2 separate regions of the Homo sapiens genome follow, and region 2 is linked to region 1. The links come from fine-mapping of genetic effects on gene expression. Tissue or cell type: whole blood. Region 1 holds a variant in brackets; the other region holds the start of a gene. All regions are shown on one strand. Distances are between the middles of the regions.

Region 1 (8,187 bases):
AAGTTATAAGAAGATTCAAATAGAGTTTCTAGTGATGAAAAATGTAATAGAAATAAAAAAGACTCTGGATGAGATTAACAGCAGATTAGATACCATAAAAAATAAGTGAACCCAAAGGTATAGCAATAGGAATTATCCAAAAAGAAGCATAATGAGAAAAAAATACTTAAAACAGAATAAACAGAGCATCGTTTTTCTGTATAAAAGCACTAAATGGTCTAAAATATATGTCATTGGAGTCCCAGGGTGGAAAAAACAAAACAAAAAAAGAGATGAAATAGTAAATGAACATTTTCCGTAAGAGATGAAATTTATAAAGCAATCCAAAAAGATAAATGAATCCCAAACAGAATAAGTATAAAAGAACCACCATGTTGTAATCAAATTGATGAAAATCAGTGATAAAGGGAATTTTATAAGCCGCCAGAGAAAAATAAACATTACAAACCAGATAAGACTGATGCCAGACTTTAAATCAGAAACTATGTAAATCAAAAGAAAATTGAGAAACATTTTTACTTCATGAGAAAGGGGTGGAGGGAACAAAACAAAAACAAACAAAATACTGTTAAATGATAATTCAATAACATGTAATAATATAAAAATGATTTTAAAAAGGAATTTTTTAATATAAAAGTGGAGCTTGAAGAATTCATTACCAGCAGGCTTCCAATGTAAGAAGGCTATGAAAAGGTCTTTGGCAGGAGGAAAATAATGGAAGAAATTTGGCTCTATGCAAAGAATTGAAGAATGTTGGAACAGGTAAATATACTGGTTAAATATAACAGACTTTTGTCCTAATTTTAAATTTTTTTTAAAAAATTCACTGCTTGAAACAACAATAATAACAATGTGTTGTGGAATTTATAACACCTATAGAAGTATACATATTAGGATAAAGGACAGGAGAAAGAAAATGGAATTATACCCTTGTAAAGTTGTTACAATATACGTGAAGCGGTTAAAGTAATATTTGGAGATAGACTATGTTAAGTCAAATATATGTATTTTAAGACCTAGAACAACCACTTAAAATAATAGAAAGCATAGTCATTAATAAGCTAATATCAAATATAAAATAATCATCCAAATGAAGGCAGAAAAAGAGGCAAATGGAAGAAAAAATAGAGATTAAACAAAAACTAGGTGGAAATATGGGGGTTTAAAACACAAGAATAATAGAAAGGATAAATAACTAGATGAAAATATGTGGTTTAAAACAAAAGAATGTTAAAAATTACATTAACTATAATTTTTTTTTTTGAGAGAGAGTCTGGCTTTGTTGACCAAGCTGGAGTGCAGTGGTGCAATTTTGGCTCACTGCCACCTCCGCCTCCCAGGTTCAAGTGATTCTCCTGCCTCAGCCTCCCGCGTAGCTGCCTGCCACCACACCCAGCTAAGTTTTGTATTTTTAGTAGAGACGGGGTTTCACTGTCTTGGCCAGGCTGGTCTCGAACTCCTGACCTCGTGATCCACCCACCTCGGCCTCCCAAAGTACTGGAATTACAAGCGTGAGCCACCTCATCTGGCCTTAAGTATAAATTTTATAAAAAACTTCAATTAAACTACAGAGATTGCCAGATTGAATTAAAAAACTAGTTGTAACTATATGCTCTCTGATTCTCCTATTAGCAATGATGAGAAAGAAAGTTTTATGGCCAGTATCTAGAAATCATGTATAGTGACTCTCTGCCTCTGCCTCACATGAGTTCACATAAAACATATACAAAAAAGTTCATCAGAAAAATACAAACTCATTTTTATTTACTTGGGTTTTGTCTTAAGCCTTTATGAGGAACCATCTACCCATGTGCCTGACATAGGTCTTATTTTTCTCCTTAGTACAAAGGCAATTAAAACAATCTGAGTGACTTCTTTGTTCTTGTTCTCCTATACCAGGAGTAGAAAAAGTATAGACTGCAGGCAAATGCTTTCCATCACCTGTTTTTTTACTACTATTCTATTGAATTATAATTCATATACCACATAATACAATCATTTTAAGTATATAATTTAATGGTCTTTAGTATATTCATAACGCTGTGTAACCATAATCACCATAATTAATTTTAGAACATTTTCATCACCCCCCAAAGAAACCCTGCACCCCTGAGTTATCACCCTCCAATCCCCACTTTTTTCTGCACCCCACGCTAGGCAATCACGAATTTGCTTTCTGTCTCTATAGATTTGCCTTTTCTGAACATTTCATATAAATGGAATCACACAATATGTGGACTTTTGTGTCTGGCTTCTTTCACTTAGCATAATGTTTTTAAATTCATCCATACTGTAGCATGATTCAGTATTTTGTTTCTTTGAATGGTAGAGTGATAGTCCATCATATAGATATACCACATTTTCTTTATCCATTCGTCAGTCGAAGAATATTTAGCTTGTTTCCACTTTTTGGCTATTATAAATAATGCTGCTATTAACATTTTTATACAAGTTTCTGTGTAAACCTTTGTTTACATTTCTCTTTGGTATATACCTAGGAGTGGAATTGTTGAGTCAAACAGTAATTTTAAACATAAAATTACAGTTATGTTTTAAACATAAAATTACAGGTATATACCCATTTTGAGGAGCTGCCAAAATGTTTTCTAAAGTGGTTCCTCTAATTTACATCTTATTAGCAAATTGAAGGATTCAAATTTCTCCAAATTCTCATCAATATTTGTTATTGTCTTTTTTTTATTGTAGCCATCCTAGTAGGTGTGAAGTGGTATCTCACTGTGGCTTGAAACAACTGGATATCTACAGGCAAAAGAATAAAGCCGAACCTCTATCTCACACCATATATAAAAATTAAGTCAAAATGGATCAAAGATCTAAATGCAACATCTAAAGCTGTAAAACTTGGATGGGCGTGGTGGCTCATGCCTGTAATCCCAGCACTTTGGGAGGCTGAGGCAAGAGGATCATTTGAGCCCAGGAGTTTGAGAACAGCCTGGCCAACAGTGAGATCCTTTCTCTAGCAAAAAAGAAAAAAAAAAAAAAAAAGAAAGCTGTAAATCTCTTAGAAGAAAACAGAGGTGTAAATCTTTGTGAACTTGATTTAAGCAATGGCTTCTTAGCTATAAAACCGAAAGTACAAGCAGAAAAAGAAGAAACAATAGATCAACTGGGGTTCAAGAAAATAAAAAAACTTTTTTGCTTCAAAGAACACTATCAAGAAAGTAAAAAGACAACCTATACAGTGACAGAAAATATTTGCAAATTGTATTTCGGATAAACAACTACTCCAGAATACATGTAGAATTCTTGCAGCGCAACAATAAAAAGATAATTAGTCCAGTTAAAACTTGGGCAAAGTGTTTGAACAGAACATTTCTCTAAAGAACATAAACAAATGGCCAATAAGCACATATAAAAGATGTACAACATTAGCCATTAGGGAAATGCAAATCAAAATCACAATGCAATATTATGACATACCCACTAGGGTGCCTAAAATACAAAAGCAGACATTAACAAGTGTTGACAAGGACGTCAGGAAATTGGAACCCTCATACATTGTTGACAGAATTGTAAAATAATGCAGCCATTTCAAAAAACAGTTTGGCTGTTCCTCAAATTGTTAAACATAGAGCCACTATTTGACCCAGCAATTTCACTCTAGGTTTATATCCATGAGAAATGAAAACCTGTGCCTACAGAAAAACTTGTACACAAATATTAAAAGCCATATTATTTATAATACTTAAAAAATGGAAAAACCTAAGCATCTATTAAATGATGAATGGACAAACAAAATGTGATATATTTGTGTGGTATATTATTCAGCTATACAAGGAATGAAATACTGAGAAATGCTACAACATGGATGGATTTTGAAAACATTATGCTAAGTGCAAGCAGCCAAATACAAAAGGCCACATATTGCATGATTTGGTTTATATAAAATATCCAGAATAGGCATATCCATGGAAACAGACAGTAATTTAGTGGTTTTCACGGGCTGGGAGCAGGGAGAAGGAAGAAAGACTGCTAATTGGTTTGGATTTTCTTTATGGGATTAAAAAAAAAAGAAAAGAAAAAGAAATCCTGAAATCAGATAGTGGTGATGGTTGCATTTTGTGGATATACTGAAAACCACTGAATTGTACACTTTAAAATAATGAATTTTACAGTAAGTGAAGTATGTATCGATGAAGCTATTAAAACATCTATTTATTAGCTCAAATTTCTACAGGTCAGAATTCTGGCATGGAGTGGCTGCATTCTTTGTTTAAGCTGAAATCAAGGTGTTGTTTGGCCGTGTTCTCACCTGAAGCTCAGAGTTCACTTCCAAGCTCATTTTTGTCCTTAGCAGAATTGAGTGTCTTGCAATTGTAGAACTGAGGTCTTGGCTTGCTGTCTGTCAGCAGGGGACTGCTCCCTGCTTCTAGAGGCCACCGGTTTCCCTCGTTATGTGGCCCCTTCCATTTTCAGGCCAGCAATAATGTGTTGAATACTTCCTATGCTTCAAATCTCTGGCTTCTGCTACCAGCTGGAGAAAAACTCTCTGCTTGTAGAGGGCTCATGTGATTTACTTAGTCTTTGTCTTAAGGTCAATTTATTTGGTACTTGGGATTTTAATTGTATCTGTATGTTTCCATCAAGGCAATAACTGTATTAGTGTTTGAATAAATAACCAGGTAATCTGGTAATTTACCATACTGGTAATCTGACAGGGAGATGGGAATTCATCTTTATAATTCTGCTTACCACAAACCATGTCTGTGCTTATTTTCTTTGGGGAAGAGTTGTCTGTGACTGTCACTTAGTTTGAGGTTCCATGTTGCTGAGATTCTGTCCAGTATTTTGACCTCTCCCCGAACTGGTCTTCAGAACCATCTCTTAGGAGCAGTGCACAGGAACATCTGGTGTTTTTTGCTCCAACTTTGGCCTCAAAGGGTCATCCATCCCCTTACATCCCTTACCTGAGTTGACATGCTTCCTTAAGAAGGTCCCATGGAGGGCTACTAGTAGTAGAACTTCAGGCCAGATGGGCCTGCGGTGATTGCAGTTATCCTGGGTTTCCTACTGGTGAAGGGAGAGTTAGGGATGAGGAATGTTCAGCCCTGTTGCTGCTGCCTTGATTTCGTATCTTGCAAGAGCCATTCTAGGTGGCTCTGAACTCTCCTCTTTCTGTTTTCCT[G/A]ATTGGAATCACTGCCATTCATGCTGGTGAAAACCCTGGCTGAATTTTTGTTACTGAATGTTCACTGTGGCATGGTGATTGTTTGGAGGTCTCTCGAGGGTGGGAACATGGGGTGAGTAATAATTTATGATATGCATCATCTGAAAATAGAAAAAAGAGGTTACATTTTTCAGTACAAAACTTAATGAGAATGAACCAAATACCTATGTACTCTGTTTTTTGCCCTTAAAAAATTATTCACTAAGAGGGCACATACTGGCAATATGCAGTCATTATCAGTGTAATGAAGAACCCAAGTGAAGGCTATTTCGGATGCTCTAATGTGCCTGTTTTATGAAAGTATAAAAGGCCTGTTTACTTTTCAATTGTTTTATTGCAGTACAAAAAACCCATCTCTTCCAATTTATGACTAATCGTGGATTTTATTATTCATGGTCTAATTCTGCAGCGGAAGGTTACAGAAGCAGGTACACATTAATTCTCCTCAATTTGGAGCCTGAGAAAGATGACTGATGGCAGCTCAGCTGCCCTCTGGCTCTCACTCCTGGAGCTTAACCTTTACATATGGATACTAAACAGGCCTGGTGCAATCCTGGTGAGCCTCTCAATGAATATTTTCTTACTCAGAATAATCAAATTTTAAGAATGTGCTACAGGAAAAAGCTGTCACATTGCATTAGGTTAGCACTGTGACTTCATGGAAATGGTCAGGTAACTCAATTGCCCCAGCCCAATAATACACAGGCATAATTTAGTTCGCTTAGAGTTAAGAGGACAAATCATTTAAAAAATGTCCTATTTGAGTTTGTTGAAGGCAAGCAAGGAACTGTGGGGCAATGGACGATTCAGAGGGGTTATAGGAGCTAAGCTAAGAATAAAATGGGCATCAAAATACTCTGTAATCTTTATAGAAATACTTATAATTAAATTATATAATGCTCTATAGTTTAGAAAGCACTCTCACTTATAGTCTTTTTTGACTCTATGGGAGATTCTATAAAGAGATACTATTGTCTTAATTTATAAATGACGATACTGAGTATACTGAGTATCGGAGGCAGTGCTTCATTCAAGGTCACTTGGCTGGTTTGTGGGACTAGAAGCTGAACTTAAGTTGTTGTTATGGGTTGACTTGTGGCCCCTGCCACCATAAAGATATGTTTAAGTCCAGCCTCCCAGTACTATAGAATGTGATCTTATTTGGAAATAGGGTTATTGCAGATATAATTAGTTAAAATGAAGCCATACTGGAGTAGGGTGGACCTTTAATCCATACAAATGGTGTCCTTATAAGAAAAGGAGAGAAACAGAGGGAAGATGGCTATGTGAAGACACAGAGGCACAAGGAGAACACCATATGAAGAAGAAGACAGAAACTGGAGTGATGCTTCTACAAGCAGGGAACACCAAGAATTGCCAGCCATCACCAGAAGCTAGGAGAGGCATGGAACAGATGCTCCCTGGGAGCCCTCGGAAAGAACCAACGCTGCTGACATCTTGATTTTGCATGGCTAGCCTCCAGAACTGTGAGAAATAAATTTCTTTTAAGCCACCCAGTTTGTGGAACTTTGTTATGGCAGCCCTAGAAAACTAATAATAGCTCCTAAGAGTAATAAGATTTTCCATTTATAGTGCCCTGACTGTGGGCCAGGTACTCTACATGCATTATCATGAAATCTTTTAAGAGCGCTTCAAGGTCTATTATCATCAATGGCATTTTCATGACTTATCTTAGGTCAAATAACTACTAAGTAGCGGAGCTGGGATTCCAGCCCCAGCCCTGAGTTTAAACCTGTGCCGTGTCTACTTTGTCCATAAGCCGTGGTGGTGTTTAAAAATGTTTGTGGCAGTGTGAGCGAGGGCAACCTCCAACTCTTGTGAGTTGCTTCTTTATTTTAGGTCTCCTAGGCAACTACTAACTCAGTTTCAACTCTGCTATGCTAACTTACATGCACTAGTTACTAATAATTACAAAATAGTGCCTGAAACTCAGAAAAAAATCAGTATTTTTAAAACATGTAGTAGTTTAAGAACCTGTTACAGTGCTTCAAAATTTATAAAGTATATTCACACAAATTCTTATTAGGTCTTTTAAAAACAATCGGTGGCTACTTTAAGCAAGTCTTTTTTCTTTCCAATTTTTGTTTTTAAGATTTGTCATATCCCCAACTGGATAGTAAGCTTCTAGAGGTAATGAATACATCAATTTTCTTCTCTTTCTTCTTCCGTGATATTGGTTCTTCCCCGAGTTCTACTGGATGTACACCTACGGTCTTGCAGTGATGATCCATGTCATTCTGAAAATGGTTATCAAGAATAAACTGGATAATCTATATATAAAAAGCAAGAATAGAATTTTTTATTTTTATCTTCTAAATCACAGAAATCATTGCTAATGTTTCCCAAACCTCACTGTAAACCATTTTAAGTCTTTCCCTCCTTTAATACACTGTGAGGTGAACCCTAATAGCATCATCCTCTTTGCTCTATGAGACCCAGAGCTAGAGAGGGATCAACCTGCCTGTTCAGCCCTCCATAGTTCTTGGGGTCAAGGAGGATGAGAAAGTCCTTCCCAGAATATTCACATGAACTAGGACAGCCTTTCTAGGACCCAGGATGTGCCATAGCCTTGTTGTCACCTGTCATAGTGTTTGGCCTTCTTGGGTGATCACTAAATTCCTTGCTGGTTTTAACAAGTTATGTTTCATTTTTATTTTTTCCAATGTTAGTTTTCAAGATGTTCCTCTGTTACATAGATTTCCTAGGCAGCTTATTCAAAGTTGAGATAAGCAAACCTAAACTGACATACTTTGATTTTCAGTGATATGGGAAATGTCCATGATAAAACAACTGAGTTAAAAATGGCAGATAAAAATATGTGCAGTATGCTCCCAGTTCTCTATGTATCTTTCTGCTACTTGTAGATGTGTGATTTTGGGCAAGTTACTTATCTGATGAGCCTCAGTTTCCTTAAATGCGCATAATAATATATACCTTGCAGGGTTAATGTGAAGATCAACAGTGACGTATTTGACACTCCT
Region 2 (8,187 bases), 73 kb after region 1:
TGGATTAGAAATCTTAATTGTGACTGTGGATGGGAAAGAGAATAATTCTGCCAGATAAAATGTAAGGGTCCCCTGAATTTGAAGCTGAAAATATCAGTTGAACTCCTCATGCTTATGGGCCAGCAGGGAATAAATAGTTAGCACATCATTAAAAGTAATAGCCCCTGACTCTGCTGAATAGCTAGAGTTGCTGTTACCAGTGAGGACAAGAAGAAACACATCTGGAACCCAAGGGTTTCACAAGGGTATCTCTTGGTGCTCCTGTGTCCAGCGATAACAGATTTGTACATAGTTTGTATTGTACTTACATAATTGTATTGTCAAAAGCTGATGCGTAATTGTATTGCAACAACTATGGCCCAAAAAGGATAAGGCAAATAAAGGTTCAAGCCTCTCAACGATGAATGTTTGTGTCATCCCACCGGGAGACCAACACAGATAGCTAATGTGCTGGCCCATAGTGAGGGAAATATAGAATTGCTGGAAGAGGTTGGAGATAAATATAACTTATGACTTCAGATCCAGGTTCAGCTATGGAACAGAAGTTTGTCTTACTTATCCTCAATCAGACTCTGGTGGACCATTCCCTTGAAGGGGACCTTGTGACAGATTGGACGAGTGCTTCCTCTCTTGTAGAATAGATAAGGACAACTTATTCTCACAAAAATGGGGGCCTATATTGTAGTATGCAATTTGGATATAATGATGGGGGAAAGTGGCCCTGAATAGTGCAGAAGGTGGACTGTATTATGCACCTTTTATGTGCTAATTTATATGCTTTGGCTCACCGATTTCATTCAAGCTGCCACTGAGATAACTTGCTCTTAGGGTATATTCTGATCACTTGCATGCAAGCGCAACCTGACATTATTGCAACTTCTCACCTCCTTCCCTGGGGCCACCCTGATGATACTTATATAAGAACCCTGTTGCACTCAAATATGTGTTATATGGAGGTGCAGGGAGGTTCATGCTCTGTGAGACAAACCTTTGACCAATTGGAGGCTGCAGCCAGTGGCTAAATTCTTCACTTTTCTCTGTGATTAAATTATTACAACTTCTTAGAAGATGGTCCTATGGGATTGAGCAATCAGTCATACCTGGAAGCAGTTAGACCTATAATGCATCCTCATATTACTCCCCCTTTTTCTCTATTCTACTCCCTTTCCTTCCTCATTCCTGCTCCCTGGGATTGTACAATCTAATTCAGGCTGGAATATTATCCCACTTCCCAATCTGATCCACTTGTGGCCCTCTGGTGATTCCACTGCCACAGTGAATGTTCCCTCCCATTGTACCATAACTGAAATGTGGCATCTTCTGAGGACACAACTTTCCCTGCAGCCCACTCAAATGAAGACTCCTGGCTCACCAATACTATTCCCAGACCATTCTTCTTCCTTGTTCCTTTGAAATGTACGTCATCCAACTAAAATACCTTCTTGTCCTTCTAAATATCTTTTGTACCTGTCCATTTCTTGCAACCCAAGATGCCACCTGCCTAGTTCAGGTCTCCACTGAATCTTGCCTGTTTGTTTGAACAGCTCTCTCTTTCCACCATCAAATAACTCTCTGCTTCTCATTTTGCCTCCCTCCACCTATATTGGACACTGAGACAAAAGTAATCTTCCTAAAGCACAAATTGGATCATGTCATTCATCTACTTACAACTTTTTTGTGGCTTCTTATTGACTTGTTTCTTTCCAGCCTTTATCTTCTGCCACTTCCTCCCTCACCATCAGCTTCAATAACACTGAACTACTTTCATTTTCCTAAAATGGAGCCTGTCCTTTGCATGTGCTGACCCTGAAACAACCTCCCACTCTTGATCAATGCCCACTCAGTCGTTTAGGTCTCAGAGGCAAGTGTCCTGGACGCTTTCAAGATTGAGCTAGTAGTGGACATCTTATCCAACCTTCTTACTTAACTCTTACCATAGCACTCACTACTTTGTAATTTTTGTCTCTGGATCCTGTGTCAGACTTAAGGCTTCCCAATTCTCCTAGCATCTAGTAAAAATTAAGCATTTGGCAAAAATTCATTGCAAGAATGTCTAGATGAATTGTTTTTCTTTTCTTCCGATTAACTTGTTCACCATCTTTTATAGTATCATTAAAAAGATGAATGTACATTTTTTCTTATGTATTTTCCCAATGTACTTAAAAAGTAAAAATAAATGGCACATGAACAGCATGAAATTGACTGGGACCTTTCTCAGGCACAGTTTATATCACTGGGCTAAACCGCTTACAGTCAGCATTTAGGAAAAATAGATTAAATTCCATACATAGACTTATAATCATTTATCATATTTGTATTCCTTTTACATTTTCATATTTTTAAAATCCTGTGCCATATTTTTATCACAATAGTGTATCACAAAGCTGAACACACCTCCTCTTGAACATTTATCACTAGTGGCCTTGAATCTTATGTGATATCATAATCAGAATTTCTACTTCATAGTGACTGATAGAGAGCAGCAGTCTCAGCTGTAAAAATAGAGTCCCCAGGGAATACTGATAGCCTTTTTCCAATAAAGCGAAATCTATTTGCAATAATAGGTATATGCAAAGACCTCCTGAAATTACAGGAGCAAACTCCTTCCGCATCTCGACCTAATTAAGATCCGTTACTCAACAGTGATCAGTCAGATTTTACTGTAAGAAGGAAGAAAACAAGGATCCTGCTAGAACAACATGGAAACAGGTAGGCTATATGTATGGTGGTTACAGTCACAGGCATTTGGGTTCAAATTCTTGTTCTGCTTTTAGCCTCTCTAGCTTTCCATCTCTTATTGTACAATGGGGAAAATAACATCTACTTCATAATATTGTGGGGAAATTAAGTAAAATATCAGATGTGGAGTTCTCAGCATATAGTATCCTCTCAACATACCCATGGCAGCTATCACTGATGAATTCCCAGAAACCTGGGACAATAAGGAAGTCTATTAAAAGAGCCTTAGCGACCAGCATCTTCAGGGAGGGATGGGGGTCAAGGAGCCAGAGGGAGGTGAGAGAGGATGAAGGGAGAGTGACCATTTTCTCTAAAGTAGTTTTTATTAAATTTTAACAGCTTCCAACCCGGGGTTCAGAACTCTAGGCAATGACCTAGTAGTCAGTAAGGCAGGAATAAATTGTGATAAGCCTGGTTCTATTATGGAAAACATTCTCAGCAAACTGCAGGGGAGAGATAGCAGGAAGATCCATGGCTAATGCACTGCTTTTAAAGAACTTTCATAACTCACTGGACACATAGGGATGTTATGTGCTTTTGCCTAGTCATGAACAGAAAATAAACACAGTTACTTACTTGTCAGGCAGAAAACTTGATTAATTTTTTTAAGCAGTAAGCAGAATCATAGGAAATCATTTCCTTCATGCAAGCCTGCAATAAACGGGAGGTGCATTTGCCACGAATTCATTTTGGTGTTCACATGGTAAAAAAATACTGCCACATGTGGAATGAGCCAAGTGGGCTTTAGAACTGAAGGGGACCAGCCCCTCCACACCTGTGGGTGTTTTTCGTCAGGTGGGACAAGAGACTGAGAAAAGAAATAAGACACAGAGATAAAGTATGGAGAAAGAACAGTGGGCCCAGGGGACCGGCACTCAGCATACGGAGGACGGGCGCCAGCCCTGGTCTCTTGAGTTTCCTCAGTATTAATTGATCACTATCTCTACCATCTCGGAGAGGGGGATGTGGCAGGACAATAGGGTAACAGTGGGGAGAGGGTCAGCAGGAAAACATGTGAGCAAAGGTCTCTGTGTCATAAATAAGTTTAAGGAAAGGTGCTGTGCCTTGATGTGCATGTACACAAACATCTCGGTGCATTAAAGAGCAGTATTGCCGCCAGCATATCTCACCTCCAGCCATAAGGCGGTTTCCTCCTATCTCAGTAAATAGAACGTATAATCGGGTTTGACATTGAGACATTTCATTCCCAGGGATAAGCAGGAGACAGATGCCTTCCTCTTATCTCAACTGCAAAGAGGCCTTCCTCTTTCACTAATCCTCCTCAGCACAGACCCTTTACGGGTGTCTGGCTGGGGGACGGTCAGGTCTTTCCCTTCCCACAAGGCCATATCTCAGGCTATCACATGGGGAGAAACCTTGGACAATACCTGGCTTTCCTGGGCAGAGGTCCCTGCAGCCTTCCGCAGTGTATCGTGTCCCTGGGTACTCAAGATTAGAGAATGGCGATGACTTTTACCAAGCATACTGCCTTCAAGCACTTGTTTAACAAAGCACATTCTGCACAGCCCTAAATCCATTAAACCTTGAGTCAACACAGCACATGTCTCTGCAAACACAGGGTTGGGGCTAGGGTTACAGATTAACAGCATCTCAAGGCAGAAGAATTTCTCTTAGTACAGAACAAAATGGAGTCTCTTATGTCTACTTCTTTCTACATAGACACAGTAACAGTCTGATCTCTCTTTCTTTTCCCCACGTAGAACTCTGAAATAAACATTGCAAAAAATCATACCCATAAAAATATTAATCTGTATTTCTTATGCTCATATTTTAAGGTTGAAAAGATCAATATAACATTAGTACTTTATCACTCTCAAATACTTTTATATCCAATATTTCATTTGCACTGAATAACAGATACCATTAGGTGGGCAGGGGAAATATCCTCCTATTAAAGACAAGGACACAGTCTCTGAGAGGTTATCTCATTTGTTAAAGGTCACGTAGCCTGTAAATGAAAGAACAAAAGTTCAAACAAACCTCATGCCTCCAAATCAAGAGGAAGCCTCAAGGGACCACACTGATACTGCTGTTAGATATGTTCACCGTCTCATGTATTTTGATGTTTACACAGGCCATTTTTAACATACATGTTTAGCAGTCAATGCCACTGGAAATCAGACCAGGGCATGTGTTTAGACATCTTATGGGTATTTCCCTGAATGAGCCCATGAATAGAGTGTAAAAATAGATAAGAAACTGACTTCCTGTTTGTTTCTCTGCTCCCACTTTTTGTCCTTCTTCCGTTGTGCCCTGGGAGGCTGATCTTAGGACCTACAACAAAGAGATTTCTCACTGGCTTCCTGGTGGTTCATTCAATAGGGAATTCCTGCAGCAAGTTGGAGGGAGGGAGGAGAAGCAGGTATGGATTTTTGTTTCTTTCCCTAGTTCTCATTTTAATGCCTGGCCATAGGCTGGCTATGCCTGGGGGTCTGCAGACAGACTTCTGTGCCTCCAGCTTTGGTAACCACCCCCTCTGCTTGCCCTCTCAGAGCCAGGGGCCTCAGGGTGCCCAGATGTTCTTATCCCCAGTTCACGCATCATCCTTGTGGCTTCCTTGTACCCTGCCCATCCTTTGTAAATATCTCTTTACTAAACTTTCCTCAGAATACCTGAATTTGAGTGATCTCTCCATTGCCTGCCAGGATCCTTCCTGACATTACCTTCCAGAATGAATATTTCTGAAGGAGTCTATTCTCTATGCAAAGAAACTCAATTTCTCACCATGTATAAAAGGAAATAAACATCGTTTTCAATGGAAAATAATGTAGGGGACATGTCTGGTGTCACAGGTGTGTTTGGACCACACAGCCCAGAAAGATGTAGTCATAGAAACAGACTCTTTTCTCTCCTTTGTTTGGTAACAGCATCCTGATTTTCCCTTGAGAAACGATCCTCTCTTCTCCTTACAGTCTCTGTTATTATGGTGGGACCGACCCTACTCTCCAGGGCAGGCATGGGGCCCTGCCCTGGCTTATGAGAAAACTATACACCCCTAACCACAGTGATCAGTTTAAAGATGGGAAGGAACAAGGGCAGGGGAACCTTTACATTTTCCAGAGATACCAAGAAAGAGGCTCTCTTCCCGCTGGATTTTCTAATCTGTGGAACCTGGGCCTGGAGATGCTGTTAACCATCTTTGACATCATATAAAAGCCAAAATAAAATAGCAAAAGGTGGAACTGAGAGATGGTGAAAATGTCCTCCTGGCCACAGAGGTTGAGCATTTGAATTCAGCCATACCTGAAAGTGTCCCTGCACTTTTCTCCCCTGGACCAATAATCTTTGTGTGTGTGTGTGTGTGTGTGTGTGTGTGTGATCTGTTGTCACCTTTATCCAGAAAAATCTACAGTAAAGAAAAAATTTATGAACTGGGAGACTTGGAATTGGGCTTAGATCCCTCACCTATAAAATGAGGGTTTTGTACTGGATGTTCTTCAAATGCCTTTCTAGAGCTAAACATGGACAAGGATCAACAGTAGCCAATCTTCCAGGTCAGCTAGAACTGAAAGAACAGTTATGCCTCAAAGTGAGCTCATTCTCTGTTCCTAGCACGTTCACTGCAGCACTGCTGTCCACCCAATAAAGGACAGACATCATTACAAATAAGGGCCCTACCCAGCCCTGGTCAGCCCTATTGATAACTCCCAGGAGAGCTCATACCATCTTCCCACTTCAGTCCAATTAACCCAATACACTATATAATTTTCATAATACCTCTCTTAAAATCTAATCAGCACACCAAATGTCCAAAGAAATATTCAATGTTTACCAGAAGTGAAATGTGGTGATAGTTATTGCGATTGTTAGCATTGCATCTTTATGTCTATCCTCCTTGAAAGGGACTCAAAAAACCCTTCCAAGCCCTCCAAGTTTCCACCAAGTAATATCTTCCTTCATGCACTGTGGCTTTTTGATACTTTCCTCTGGCATCCATTTGATGAAAATTATTTTCATCAAAGGATGCCAGAAAAACAAATGAGTTTTAAAGTAAAGATGAAGGAAAATTTTGAAAAGTACTTAATTTCCTCATTATTCATCCATTCATTGTTCCACTATCCAATGACCAAGGCACTGTTTCTGGGCTGTTCACAGTAGCTCTATTTTCTGCTATTGTTTTTTATTTGATGAAAATTTAGCTTAAACAAACTAGGCTTATGTAAAATCAATGTAATAGCACAATCCTGCATAATTTGCCAAGCATTTGATGAGTTGAAAGGTGACATATTTGCACACTACATTTAGATGTGGGAAAGAAACTATCATCATTGCGCCCTGAAAACCTCATTCCCACCATTGGTGGGGAAATAAAAACCCTAAATTTGTGCATAGAAGATATTTCCATGTCTGCTGGCTTAAATAGTCTTTTAAAGACTTGTTTATGTCTTCTGGATAAAGACTCAATCAAGTTTAAGTTCCATGCCCCTCTTAGTACTGTTTCTCGTCTTGGAGAGCCACTCACTAGAAGGCACTTTCCACAAGAGGTGCCTCTCACAAGATGTAGTCTTCCATAAGATGGCAACTGGATGGAGAGGAAAGCTTACCTGTCCTCTTTGCTGTGAGGATGTCAACCTGCTGCTCCTCATACTGTCTTCTGGTCCCCTCTGGCCTTTGAGATGATGTCCTGTCTGTCCATTAGGCATCCCCCTGGCAGAAGCTTCTGAGACCACAGTCAGTATAATTGGTGATCTGGTGGTCTGCTGGGGGTCTACTGTGTCCCCTCCAGTTATACTCCCTTGTCTTGGTTCTTGCTAGAGCAGCAGCTCCCCATGGTCTCAGCTGCCTCCTCCATCCACCCTGGGCCTTGGTTCTCCACCCAGCAGCCTCTGCCATGGGGTCAAGTTTCCCTCCCACTGGGATCCATGGGAGGCCCACTGGCCCTCATCTCTCTTCCATACTCTTCTTCCTCTGGGAGCAAGTGACAATGTTTGGATTCCTTCCCTATCCCACAGCAGAGGACCTATTCCCAGTTATCTTTTCTTCTTAAGTATCACCACCATGGTATACCACCATGTCGATTTTTCTGTTCTGTTGCAATTTTACTAATGCAGGGGTGCCCTAAAAGGTGATCTCCTCCCTGAACCCCAAACAAGGCATGAGTCCCCTCTGCCGCTCTGCTTCTGGGTTTCCTTGCTGATCTCTCTTAATATGAATCCGGAAATATGTCCTATCTCTTGCTCTCGCTTTCTGTACCTCATGGATTCTTCGTAGAATCAGAAGGTATATCTACTTCATCTTTTTGTTGTTAAAAGAAAAACTTTAGCCAAATTAAATTTAACAGAGTTTAATTGAGCAAAGAACAATTTGCAAATTGAGCAGCCTCCTGAGCCACAGTAGGCTCAGGGACTCCAGTGCAGACACATGGTGGAAGATTTATAGATAGAAGAAAGAAAGTGACATACAGAAACTAGTGTGAGGTACAGAAAC

Evidence for each region. PIP is the estimated chance that this variant, and not a neighbour inherited with it, causes the effect. A credible set is the group of variants that fine-mapping cannot tell apart.
Region 2: HISLA starts here. The variant in region 1 is the best candidate, but not a certain one, in a credible set for the expression of HISLA in whole blood (TOPMed, PIP 0.86).

The regions. Positions count from the first base shown.
Region 1 is chr14:88,093,598-88,101,784 of GRCh38, reverse strand. No RefSeq gene overlaps it. Among named protein-coding and RNA genes, the nearest start is that of KCNK10-AS1, 63 kb to the left of the region's middle. The variant G/A (reference allele first, on the strand shown) is at 5,147.
Region 2 is chr14:88,020,610-88,028,796 of GRCh38, reverse strand. HISLA (HIF1A stabilizing long noncoding RNA) reads right to left here and starts at 4,247. Exons shown (of 4, transcript NR_046094.1): 1 at 4,128-4,247; 2 at 3,316-3,390. LINC01147 (long intergenic non-protein coding RNA 1147) reads left to right here and starts at 2,485. Exons shown (of 3, transcript NR_110121.1): 1 at 2,485-2,709; 2 at 5,021-5,122.